Linked DNA regions of Homo sapiens: region 2 is linked to region 1. Evidence: fine-mapped expression QTL. Tissue or cell type: subcutaneous fat. Region 1 holds a variant in brackets; the other region holds the start of a gene. All regions are shown on one strand. Distances are from middle to middle. Region 1 overlaps SCCPDH (saccharopine dehydrogenase (putative)). Region 2 holds the start of LINC01341 (long intergenic non-protein coding RNA 1341).

The links.
Region 2: it holds the start of LINC01341, and the variant in region 1 is fine-mapped to the expression of LINC01341 in subcutaneous fat (TwinsUK, PIP 0.95).

Annotation. Positions count from the first base shown.
Region 1 is chr1:246,748,646-246,754,018 of GRCh38, forward strand. The region is part of intron 5 of SCCPDH (saccharopine dehydrogenase (putative)); the gene reads left to right. Among named protein-coding and RNA genes, the nearest start is that of SCCPDH, 27 kb to the left of the region's middle. The variant AT/A (reference allele first, on the strand shown) is at 3,294.
Region 2 is chr1:246,786,578-246,791,950 of GRCh38, forward strand. It overlaps LINC01341 (long intergenic non-protein coding RNA 1341), which reads left to right and starts at 3,040. Exons shown (of 2, transcript NR_015422.1): 1 at 3,040-3,121; 2 at 3,869-4,909. RefSeq lists a silencer at 2,281-2,360.

The DNA.
Region 1 (5,373 bases):
TATTGACTTAAATCCTGCAGCTATTTGATCTCGAGATTTAAATTCATCTGGTTCTCCTCATGGAACTCCAGTAGCGTTTATATAAACATGGGGGTCAAAGGACCCATGTGGGGCACTTCTTTTATGATTTTCTTTTTTATCATGTTGACAGAATGCTAGGGTGGAAGGGATGGCCAACTGGACTAGAGCACAAGTGCTGCTCTAATTACTTGCAGAATACCCAGCAATAGTCCCCCGCAATACCACCACGCACCTGCTCGAGGATGAACAAGGGCAGACTGGTGGGTAAGCTCTGGAAAAGGCTTGGTTTCACTGCACCCTGTTAAGTCTCCAAGGAATGCTAACTTTTCCGTCTGCCGTGAAAGGCACGAGGTGAAGTTAATATCAGGCTGGAGGCCACATGGCCCTCGGGGGCTGACCCACAAGGCTCTTGACCTCAGGGAACAGCAGTGAAAGAGTCTTGCATGACTCATCGCCTCGGCTGTAGGGTTCTGGAAGAGAGCTACCACACAGCTCATGCCCAGTCATGAGAGAACCACCCAGGTGGAAAGGGGACAGTTTGGGTATCTGGCCTGCCTGTTGCACAAGCATAACCGTCGCTTTTGTTTAGCGTGCAAACAGAATATTTTATCCATTCCAGCCAAGCATTTGCATCCAGATACCCTGTTTCAATTGCTGTAGTTTGTTTTAAATCTTTAACCTCTACAGTAGCTACATAGGTTTTATCATTGGGTATATAATGAGAGAAAGTTTGGTTAGTGGAGAACTTAGACGAGGGAGAAGGGGGTGCAGGATGTGAGGAGGCAATGAAGTACATTTCAAAGGATCCTATGGGGTCCTTCCCTGAGACTTCTCCTACACCACAGAAATGGCCTAATGAAGGGGAAGAACTCTGGGGAGCAGCAGTCGTCATCTGTGCTGGATTACATTGGTTCAGCTGACCATGGGGAGGGGAAACTCCTTTAGTAAAATGAATGTATGGTTTTAAGAAGCTGCAAGTACTAGTTGGGGCCGTCCGTCCTTGCTCTTTGGTGTTTTATAGAGCATCGGACAAATTTCGGCAGAGAAGCTCTGCTCTAGGAGGACAAGATTCCCAGTTCATACTGGACTCTTTGTCAAAGTCCTCCCAAACTAACTTATCTCAGTTAACAGATTTCCAGTCTGAGGAGAGCTAGGAAGGATAAAGATACTTTTCTAAAGTGTAGATTTGCCTCTGGTTTGACAAATCTTCACAGGGCATCAGAAGGCAAGCGTCAAAAGTAATGGTTTGGGGTGAACTTGACCTAGTTACACTAGTAAAGAGAGGACTAGCAATAGAAGGGGAAAAGAAAGAGATGCAGTATAGGAGGTTCAAACCCATTTTCGCTTTAGCTTGGTTGGAGTTGGCCCTGGAATAGCTGTCCATGATTCTGGAGGGGGTGGTGCTCTTTGGACCCAGGTGTAATGAGTCCATCCTCTTTCTGCTGTTCGAACCGCGGTCTTGGTGCTTAGAAGCACTAGGTAGGGTCCTTCGAAAGCGGGTTCGAGTTTTCCTTCCCTTTAGCTTTTGACAAGGACACGGTCCTCATGCTAATGTTGGTGTACTGGAAACTCTAGCGGGGGGGTACCTGTGCTGAAAGACCTATAGTTCTGAGGGACGAGAAAGTGGAAGATAAACCAAACATACAATTTCTGAGGAACTGATCTTTTGTTTTGACTGTGGGAATGTCAGCAGTGGAGTGCAAACAGGGCAACCTATACAACACTTCGTAAGGGGATAAGCGAACATCTTTCCGAGGGGCAGTTCAGATTCTAGGCAGGGCAATGGGATGGCAGCTAGTCCATGGCACCCGAGTCTCTAGACTAATTTGGTTAGGTGGCTTTTTTAGAGTTTGGTTCATTCTTTCCACTCTTCCTGATGAAGGTGGGTGCCAGGGAGTATGATATTCCCATGTTATATCCAGTACCTGGGCTAATTTCTTAATGACATGTACAGTGAAATGAGTCCTATTATCTGAGTCAATGCTTTCTATTAATCTAAACCTGGGTATAATATTTTCAACTAATGCCTTGACTACATTACTAGCAGTTGTACTTGAAAAGGGAATAGTTTGTACCCAACGAGTAAGGTGATCTATTATTACTAATAAATACTTTAGACGACCAATTGGAGGCATCTCTGTGTAATGAATCTGGATACTTTGGAATGGCCTTAAGCCTGGACTCCTTCCCCCAAGGGGTAATCTTTTTATAGTTTGTTTATTGGTTTTCTTACATACTGAGCAACTGTCTGTAACCCGTTTGGCCGGGGTATAAATTCCTGTGCACCCATAAACTCTGAGGACTGCGTCACACATGGCGTGGGGCCCCCAGTGGGTCCCTTGACGCAGCTGGAACAACATTTCGCTCATAAGGGGTTTGGATAACATTTCTCTCTGGTCTGGCAGTATCCATTTTCCTTCAGAATTCTCTTTAGCAACTGTTTTTATTAATTTTTTAGACCAAAGAAACCCAAATGCCATTTTATATTTGACAATTAGCAGATCAGCTAAATGTCACCTTTCTATTAGTGTGCTATTAATGTTAAACTCAATTTTAATAAAACCTTTTAGACATATTTATCCAATTTTAATGTCTGACCATAAGTTTTTTATAGACTCTTTTTAACCCTTTATAATTTTTGTTAAAGAACAGGTTAGTACTTTAAGAAAAACCTGTTGTGCTTTTATTTTAATGTCCAGTTTACAGAAACTTTAACCAATATGTTTACACACAGAATTTCCTTTACAATTAACTTTTCAAACCTTGCTTAAACCTTCAAAACAATTTTTAACCTTTTAATGTAGGTAAAAATCCACATTCTTATGCCTCCTTATAATCCTTTTACCAAAAGTATATTTTACTTTCCTTACACACCTTGCACATAAACTGTTTCTTCAATAGTTTTACATTCAGGAGGCCTAATTACTTTTCAATTATATGACATTTCTTGCATAAATTCCCTTTTATAACATTTTTCACGACTTTCACAGACGACCTTTGACATGCCTTAACTTTCTGACTTGTCGTAAATATCCCTTTCTTTAAACAACCAGTTAATTTACTTTAGGACAAGAATTTACCATATAAGATTCTTTTTACATAAATTCTCCTTTTTTTTTTTTTTTGAGATGGAGTCTCGCTCTGTCGCCCAGGCTGGAGTGCAGTGGCGCAGTCTCAGCTCACTGCAAGCTCGCCTCCCGGGTTCATGCCATTCTCCTGCCTCAGCCTCCTGAGTAGCTGGGGCTACAGGCTCCCGCCACCACGCCCGGCTA[AT/A]TTTTTTTTTTTTGTATTTTTTTAGTAGAGACGGGCTTTCACCGTGTTAGCCAGGATGGTCTCATCTCCTGACCTCATGCTTCACCCGCCTCGGCCTCCCAAAGTGCTGGGATTACAGGCCTGAGCCACCGCGCCCGGCTAATTCTCCTTTTTTTTTAATGTCAAAGATGATAACCATTCTTTTCCAAAGCACACTGCCTTCATGTCTGTGGACTAGACTGCCTGAGGCCACAAGATTAGAAGTTAGGATCATACATGTTAGACTTAACTTTTAGCAAACTTTACTTTTGTTGAAAACCTTGTAAGTTTGGGATTTTAATTATGTGCTAGGTGTAGAGCCTAGGACCTAGACAGAAGTGCAGATGAGGTCTGGCTTCTCCTAGCATTTAACTCCATGTGTCCTAGGTTTTCCCTAGCTGCAAAGCAGGCCAGTTGTACAGCTAAGAAACGGTAGTCTGTTTGGCTATCTGATTAATAGCTCTAAGTTCTTGCACTAACCAGTATGACCCATCTGGCTTCTTTACAGGCAGAATTTGAGTGTTATAGGGAGACATACAGGGTTTAAGCAGCCCGTCACAGAGAAGACCTTCAATTATCAATTGTAGGTTTTAAATTTACCCTCACTTTTAAAGGAATAGGGTATTGCTTTCTCTTTTCTACTTCCCCAGGGGTTTTTAATTTTTTTAATTTAACACGAATCGGAGGAATCTGTAACTTTCCTCGATTCCTGTCTTTTGACCATACCTTGGGATGAATGTGTTCTTTGTCTGCGGTGGGGAGCAAGTTTAGGGAGGGGAGGAATTTTCCCTAATCAATATAGAGGCGTAAGCCAAATTTTAGTACTAAATCTCTCTCTGATAAGTTTGTTCCTGCCTCTGGAATTAACAGAAATTTAATATGAACTGATTTGCTTTTATATATGACTTTTGTTCTTTTTCCCATTTGGGACATTGTCTTTTGAAGTGACCTATTTTTAATTCGAAACATTTGTTTTGTCCTCTTTCTCTCCCTTTGCCTCTTCGTCTGTGTCTCTGTCTCTCTCTCTCTCCGCCTCTCTGTCTCTTTCTCTCTCTTTGCCTCTCTGTCTCTTTCTCTCTCTCTCTTTTTCTTTGACTCTCTCTCTCTCTCTTTCTCTCTCCTTGACTCCTTCTGTTCCCTGTCAGTCTTTCTCCTCTAGGATTTTTTTTCTCTACCTTTGAGTCTCCTGGCTTTACTCTTTCATCCTCTTTATGTTGCCTGGAGAGTGGGGGTCTAGGTTCTTTACAGGTTCTGGCCCCCTGGGTACTTTGTTGTATGGTAGACAGCAGAATTTTTGCTTTCTGCTTTTTTCTTCATCTCTTCTTACATACACTTTTTGGGCTTCTCTTAGAAGCTCTTCTATAGGTTTATCTTTCCAGTTCTCTATCTTTTGTAATTTCTTATTAATATCTGGCCAACTGTTAGTGACAAAATGCAGTTTTAACATTCCCTGCCCAAGAGGATCCTCGAGACCTAGACCAGCATATTTTCTCATTTGTTCCTTTAATCTAAAAAATTTTATAGGTGCTTCATCTTTCCCTTGCTGTACATAAAATGTTTGGGTAAGATTCTGGGATACTGATTCTTTAATCCCCTTTATTATCAATTCCCTAAGGTCCTGCATATTTTCTTGAGGGGCTGCATTGTTATTGTCCCACCTGAGGTTTTGGGCGGGAAATTTTTGATCCGCTGTAGGAACGTTTTGGCCAGAAGGGTGTTCACGTTCCAAGACTCCCATAGCAGTTCGACGGATCGTGGCTCTTTCTTCCCCCGAGAAGAGAGGAAAGGGAAGTTCTGAAAATCCTTTTTACATTGCTCTATCTCACGCTGAAGTCCTTTTAGGGAAGAGGACTTAACGCTCGTAGTGAGTGGGCTCCTGGGACAGTTCCCAGGAGGCAGGGTTATAAGGAGGGGGACAATGGGGATAGGAGAAGGGTCTGGGACAGCAGCTGCTTTTTCTTGTTTTTGGTCCTTTCATTATCCTTCTAGTATTTTAACATGAGACCTAGGGGGCACTCAAGGGGAATATCCTTGTTATCTTTGTCCTTCTTGGTCCCTGTC
Region 2 (5,373 bases), 38 kb after region 1:
AGCACCAGATTTTCTCCATTATATCCTGGAACTAACACTTGGAGTCCCTACCAAATTGATTAAATCTCTTACAAGGTTCCGGCCGATGGGAGCTCACGTCTCCAGGGAGCTGTCCCCAGCCCAGGTGGTCTGTGTGGCACAGCAGCCATCAGGGTGCCTAGACCCGGAGAGGCCCCAGGACCATCTGGGAGGGCCTGCTCATGGCCAGCAAGAGTTGGTCTGGGATCCCGGTGGCCCTGGTAGGCTGTTGGTGAAAGGAATGGTACTCGGGCCTGGGCTGGGCAGTCTGGCTTCTGTGGCTAGTTCCCTGAGAGTCCCTGGGAACGCACCCCTGCCCCACAAGGCCTTGAGGTCCTTTCTGCACCTGGCACACCAGCTCCTGGCTCCAGCTAACTTACCTTCTTTGGCTCTTCACTCATTTGATTTGCTTCTGAACCAGCGGCATCAGTTTGATGTAGTCCTGGAACGCAGCCAGGACACTGGGGCCCGCCTTGCCGTCTCCACCGTCCGCAGCACCTGGCAACAATCACAGTGGAGGCGAAAGTCAGTCACTTGTTCCGCCATGAAGAATTTTTTTTTTTTTTTTTTTTTGAAATAGAGTTTCACTCTCGTTGCCCAGGCTGGAGTGCAGTGGCGCCATCTCGGCTCGCTGCAACCTCTGCCTCCCAAGTTGAAGCAATTCTCCTGCCTCAGCCTCCTGAGTAGCTGGGATTACAGGTGCGCACTACCACACCCGGCTAATTTTTGTATTTTTAGTAGAGATGGGGTTTCACTATGTTGGCCAGGCTGGTCTCGAACTCCTGACCTCAGGTGATCTGCCCACCTCGGCCTCCAAAAGTGCTGGAATTACAGGCGTACAGGCATGAGCCACCATGCCAAGCCCTTTTTCTTTTTTTTTTAGACAGCTGTCTTGCTCTGTCGTCCAGGCTAGCGTTCAGTGGCATGATCTCTGCTCATTGCAGCCTCCACCTCCCAGACTCAAGCAATCCTCCCATCTCAGCCTGCTGAGTACCTGGGACTACGGGTGCAAGCCACCATGCCTGGCTAATTTTTAAAATATTTTGTAGAGATGAGGTCTCACTTTGTTTCCCAGGCTGGTCTTGAACTCCCAGGTTCAAGCGATCCTCCTGCCTTGGCCTCTCAAAGTGCTAGGATTACAGGCATGAGACACCACGCCCAGCCGCCATGAATAAATGTGTATGCTTATTTGTTCATTCATTTGTTCAGCTGTTCATCAAATATCTACATTTTAAAATTACAAGCATGTAATTTAAAAACAAACAAGGGAAAATGACACTGCCTGGCTTCTCCTTACGTGGTTGCTTATCTCGACCCATGAATCCTGGCCGCAGGCAGGAGGTCCTCTGCCCCCAGTTCCCATTCTTGGTCTCAGGGTCCTTGACCCAAGGTGGCTCCAGACTGGAGGAGGGTGGGGCGAGGTGAAACATGGCTGGCTAGACGGAAGGCCTGGAGGTATCCTCAAGCTGCTGCTGGCACAGCAAGTGACCTGTGCTTCTCTTATACTTGGGGTGGCTTGAAGGAGGGGCTCGTGGAGATTATGGGAGGATCAATCTCCCTCCCAAACCCAGGCTGGTACTGCCTCTAATCAGGAAATCTCAACTCTTAGAGACCCCTGGCCTGTGGGTGCACACAGTGCCCTTGGCCCTGAGGTCTGACCCCAAACTGCTCACACAGCTGCTGCCTTGTTGGGGACCCAAGTCTTCCCTAGGGTCCGAGCCAGGGTCTGGGGCTGGTTCAGCTTCATGGCGCCACCAGGGCCACAGGGGCAGTGGCACGGTCAACCTCTGAGGACAGGTCAATGAACAGATGGCTTTTCCGGGCCTGGTATGACAGAGTCTTACTGGTTCGTTGTTTTGTTTTGTTTTGTTTTGTTTTGAAATGGAGTCTCGCTCTGTCACCCAGGCTGGAGTGCTGTGGCACGATCTCAGCTCACTGCAACCTCCTCCTCCCAGGTTCAGGCAATTCTCCTGCCTCAGCCTCCTGAGTAGCTGGGACTACAGGTGTGTGCCATCACATCCGGCTACTTTTTTGTATTTTTAGTAGAGACGGGGTTTCACTGTGTTAGCCAGGATGGTCTCGATCTCCTGACCTCGTGATCTGCCCGCCTCGGCCTCTCAAAGGGCTGGGATTACAGGCGTGAGCCACCGCGCCCGGCCTTGTTCATTTTTAAAAGTCGAAAACTTCAGCAGAAGAAGAGCAAGGAGGTGAATTTCTAATCGATTTATTTTGCTGAAATTCTGAGAGAAACACTGTGGTGTGGGGACAGGGAGGAGCTCTTGCACACACACAGGTGGATCTGCCCACTTTCCACCAGCGGTTTCATTACTGCGAGTTCAGGCAGAGTCCCGGTGCCGAGCAAAGCGTGGGGCCCCTCCGGGAAGCCCGCAGGTCACTCAGATCGCAGCGGGCTCCGGCCTGGCCAGGATTCTGGGGGAGCCGCCCGGAGCGCGGTGAATCGGGGCGGGGAGAGGGGCGGGGAAGGCGCGCGAAAGCCCCAGCAGAGACCGGCAGCGGCGGGCGGCCCGCGTGGGCTACTGCTGGGGGCTGCGTTCGGGCGAGGAGGGGAGATTCTGTCTCAGAGGCCTCGGGCTGCACGTTCTTCCGGGCCGCGCATTTGCAGCCCACAGCAGGCCCCAGCCGGCCCCTCTGGAGTTGGGCCACTGCTTCTGCAGGCCCAGCAGGCCCCTGGGGGCGGCCGGAGGCCACTAACTGGCTTCTCCAGCTCAGCATTCTTCTCTCATTTGCTGGGTACCCCACTCTCTTCTCTACCCCTTTGAACCATCTTTACCCTCATTCCTCAGGGAACGTTTAACGAGTTGAATGTTTACCATGTAGTCACTCTATATGGAAATCATAATTCAATTTTGTAAACATCAGACTTTGACAAAACAAATGATGATGTTCTTAAGGAAAGCAGAGAGACACAGTGTGAAATCGCTGCTCTCAGATCAGCACACGGGAGAGGCCAGCAGTCAGGAGGGGGCTCACCGAGTTTGTCTGCACTCGCTCCCTCCGCAGCCGCCCTCTCCAGCTGGAAGAAGTCGTAATCGAACCTGCTCAGGTCCTCACTGCCCCACTCCGAAGGAAACCCCACGTACAGGTAGGTGCTGTTGGATCCCAAAATCAGGCGGTCCTGGGGAGGAGACGGTGGGCTCAGGAGGGGTTCGAGGCCAAGGAGGGTGAGGTGAACCTCCCCAGTGAGAAGGATCTGAGGAATGTCCTCCCCTCAGGAATCCCCCAGACAGGGAGAGACGCAGACAGGAGGGAGGTGGCCTCTGGCTCCTGCGTTCACCTTCATTGCACACATTGAGGGCGTGACTCCCTTGGCCCTGGGGTTCTGTGGGGACCACCCAGAGCCAGGCCCTCCCTCCACGCTTTCCAGGCTGGTCTGGGTGAGTGCAGCAATGGCTGCAGGGGACACCAGGACCTAACTCAGACTACAGGCTACAGACGGCCTTTTCCGAGGCGTGATGCCCAAGCTAAGCCCTCCTGGGCGGTAAGTCTTGGTGAGGCAGAGACGGCTGCTGAACAACCAAAAGAAGGGCAGTGTGGCCAGGGACAGGAGGCCGAGGGAGGTCACTGAGGGGGCTTTCCAAATGGGGAGCGGCCAATCCCCATCTGCCTGTCCTGTCTGAAAGGCTGTGGCCACCAGGGAGGGGAGAGGGCTGCTGGGAAGCTGGCAGGGGCCCCAGGGTTGGCAGATTGGGGAGGAAGAGGCAGCGATGTTTGCAAGATGCTGTTCAACCCCTCTCAGTGACAGGCTCTTAGAAAAATCTAAAATGGCACAAAATGTTAGAGCTGGAAGGGACCTTGGAGAACACCTAGTTCAGCCCTCCTTGTTTTCCAGGTGAGGTCAGAGGAGTGAAGTGACTTGCCCAAGACCACACAGTGAGTCAGGAGCAGGCCTGTCCCTCCAGCAGTGGTGCCATGTTGTCCCCAAGCCATGGTGGCAGAGGAGCTGGTGTGAACGCCCCATCCTGCCACGTCTGTGATGTGGGCACCTCACATGACTGTCCCCTCCCAGCTCTTGGGGGGGACCTAGGACATTCTGTGAGCCTGCAGGAAAGTTTACCAAATGCTGCAGCTTTGTCCTGGTGGTGATGGGCACCCCGTTAACGGCAACCTTGCATTTGCTATGTGGAGTGACCGTCACTTTACCGTCGGCATTTGTGAAGGAAGCGTGTTTATCTGAAATTCTAAGAAGATGAGAGTCAAAGACACCCAGCAAACGGCGGTTTCCGTGAGCAGGTAGGCTGACCTTTCTCATGTGCACAGGAGGGAAGGTCTACAGCTGCGGAGGATGGCAGGTGGCATCTCGGGGCCTCCTGTGTGCTGTGGCCCATGATGCATGGGGACAGCAGCGGGCGCAGAAGGACCCTGCCCTTGGGGAGCACGGGGAGCTGGGAGACAGCAGGCAAGGGCTTCATTAACAGAACGAACACCAGCTGAGGGCCTAGCACTGCGGGGAGCCGGCCAAGGCCACACTGGAGTCCTCCCGCTCCCAGGCCAGCGGGATGGGGTGGTGGGAAGATGGCAGCAAGCAAGCTTCAGAAGAGACGCTCAGGAGGCGACTCTTAACGAGCCTCACCTACTCCGGGTACGTTTTGATCTGTTTCTGCGCCCTCGCCGTATAAATTCAGACCTTATAGGATTTGGGGCTGGACGTCGGGGTGTCAGGTTGGCATCCCCTCTCCCCGCCCTGCTCCCCTGCACCGATGTCATCTGTGTGTCCTGAATGACTGGCTCCCTGCCTTAGCATGTTCCATGTTCCTGCACTCCTTGGCCATCATGGAATGTTCTGGATGTGGAGACCCGTGTGCATCCAAACCCTTTTTTGCATGGGGCCCAGGGATCCTGTGGGAAAGGTTGCGGCCTCATCACTGGAGTTCAGACATTTACGCACCTGTGCGTTGGACTAAGGACGTGTTCTGGAAAGGGACTTGAGGGGGATCCCCAGGAAGATGTCCCAAGAAGGAGGCTGGCAGTGCAGGACGAGGCGGGGCCAGCCGGCCCCTGGGTCAGCACCCCTCCAGCCACGACGGCCCGTGGGCTTTCGTACGGGGGCAGGGGGTGATCTGTCTGAAGGATGTAGGTGATGGTGCTTCCCAGCTGGAGAGCTGGAAGCAGGAGGAGGACACTCCAGCAGCAGCCTCCCAGGCAGGGCAGCCACAGAGCTGGGGACAGCTCTTGACTGGGTGAGGCCCGGCATGGGGTTTCCCAGGGCTCCTGCGGGGCCTCCTGAGGGAGCCCTTGGGGTCACTCCACAGTCTGGGCTTTCTGTAGTCCGGTGGGTCAGGGCTCCAAGCACCAGGAGAGATCCAGGGATGCGCTTATGTTTGGGCCACCCCCGGT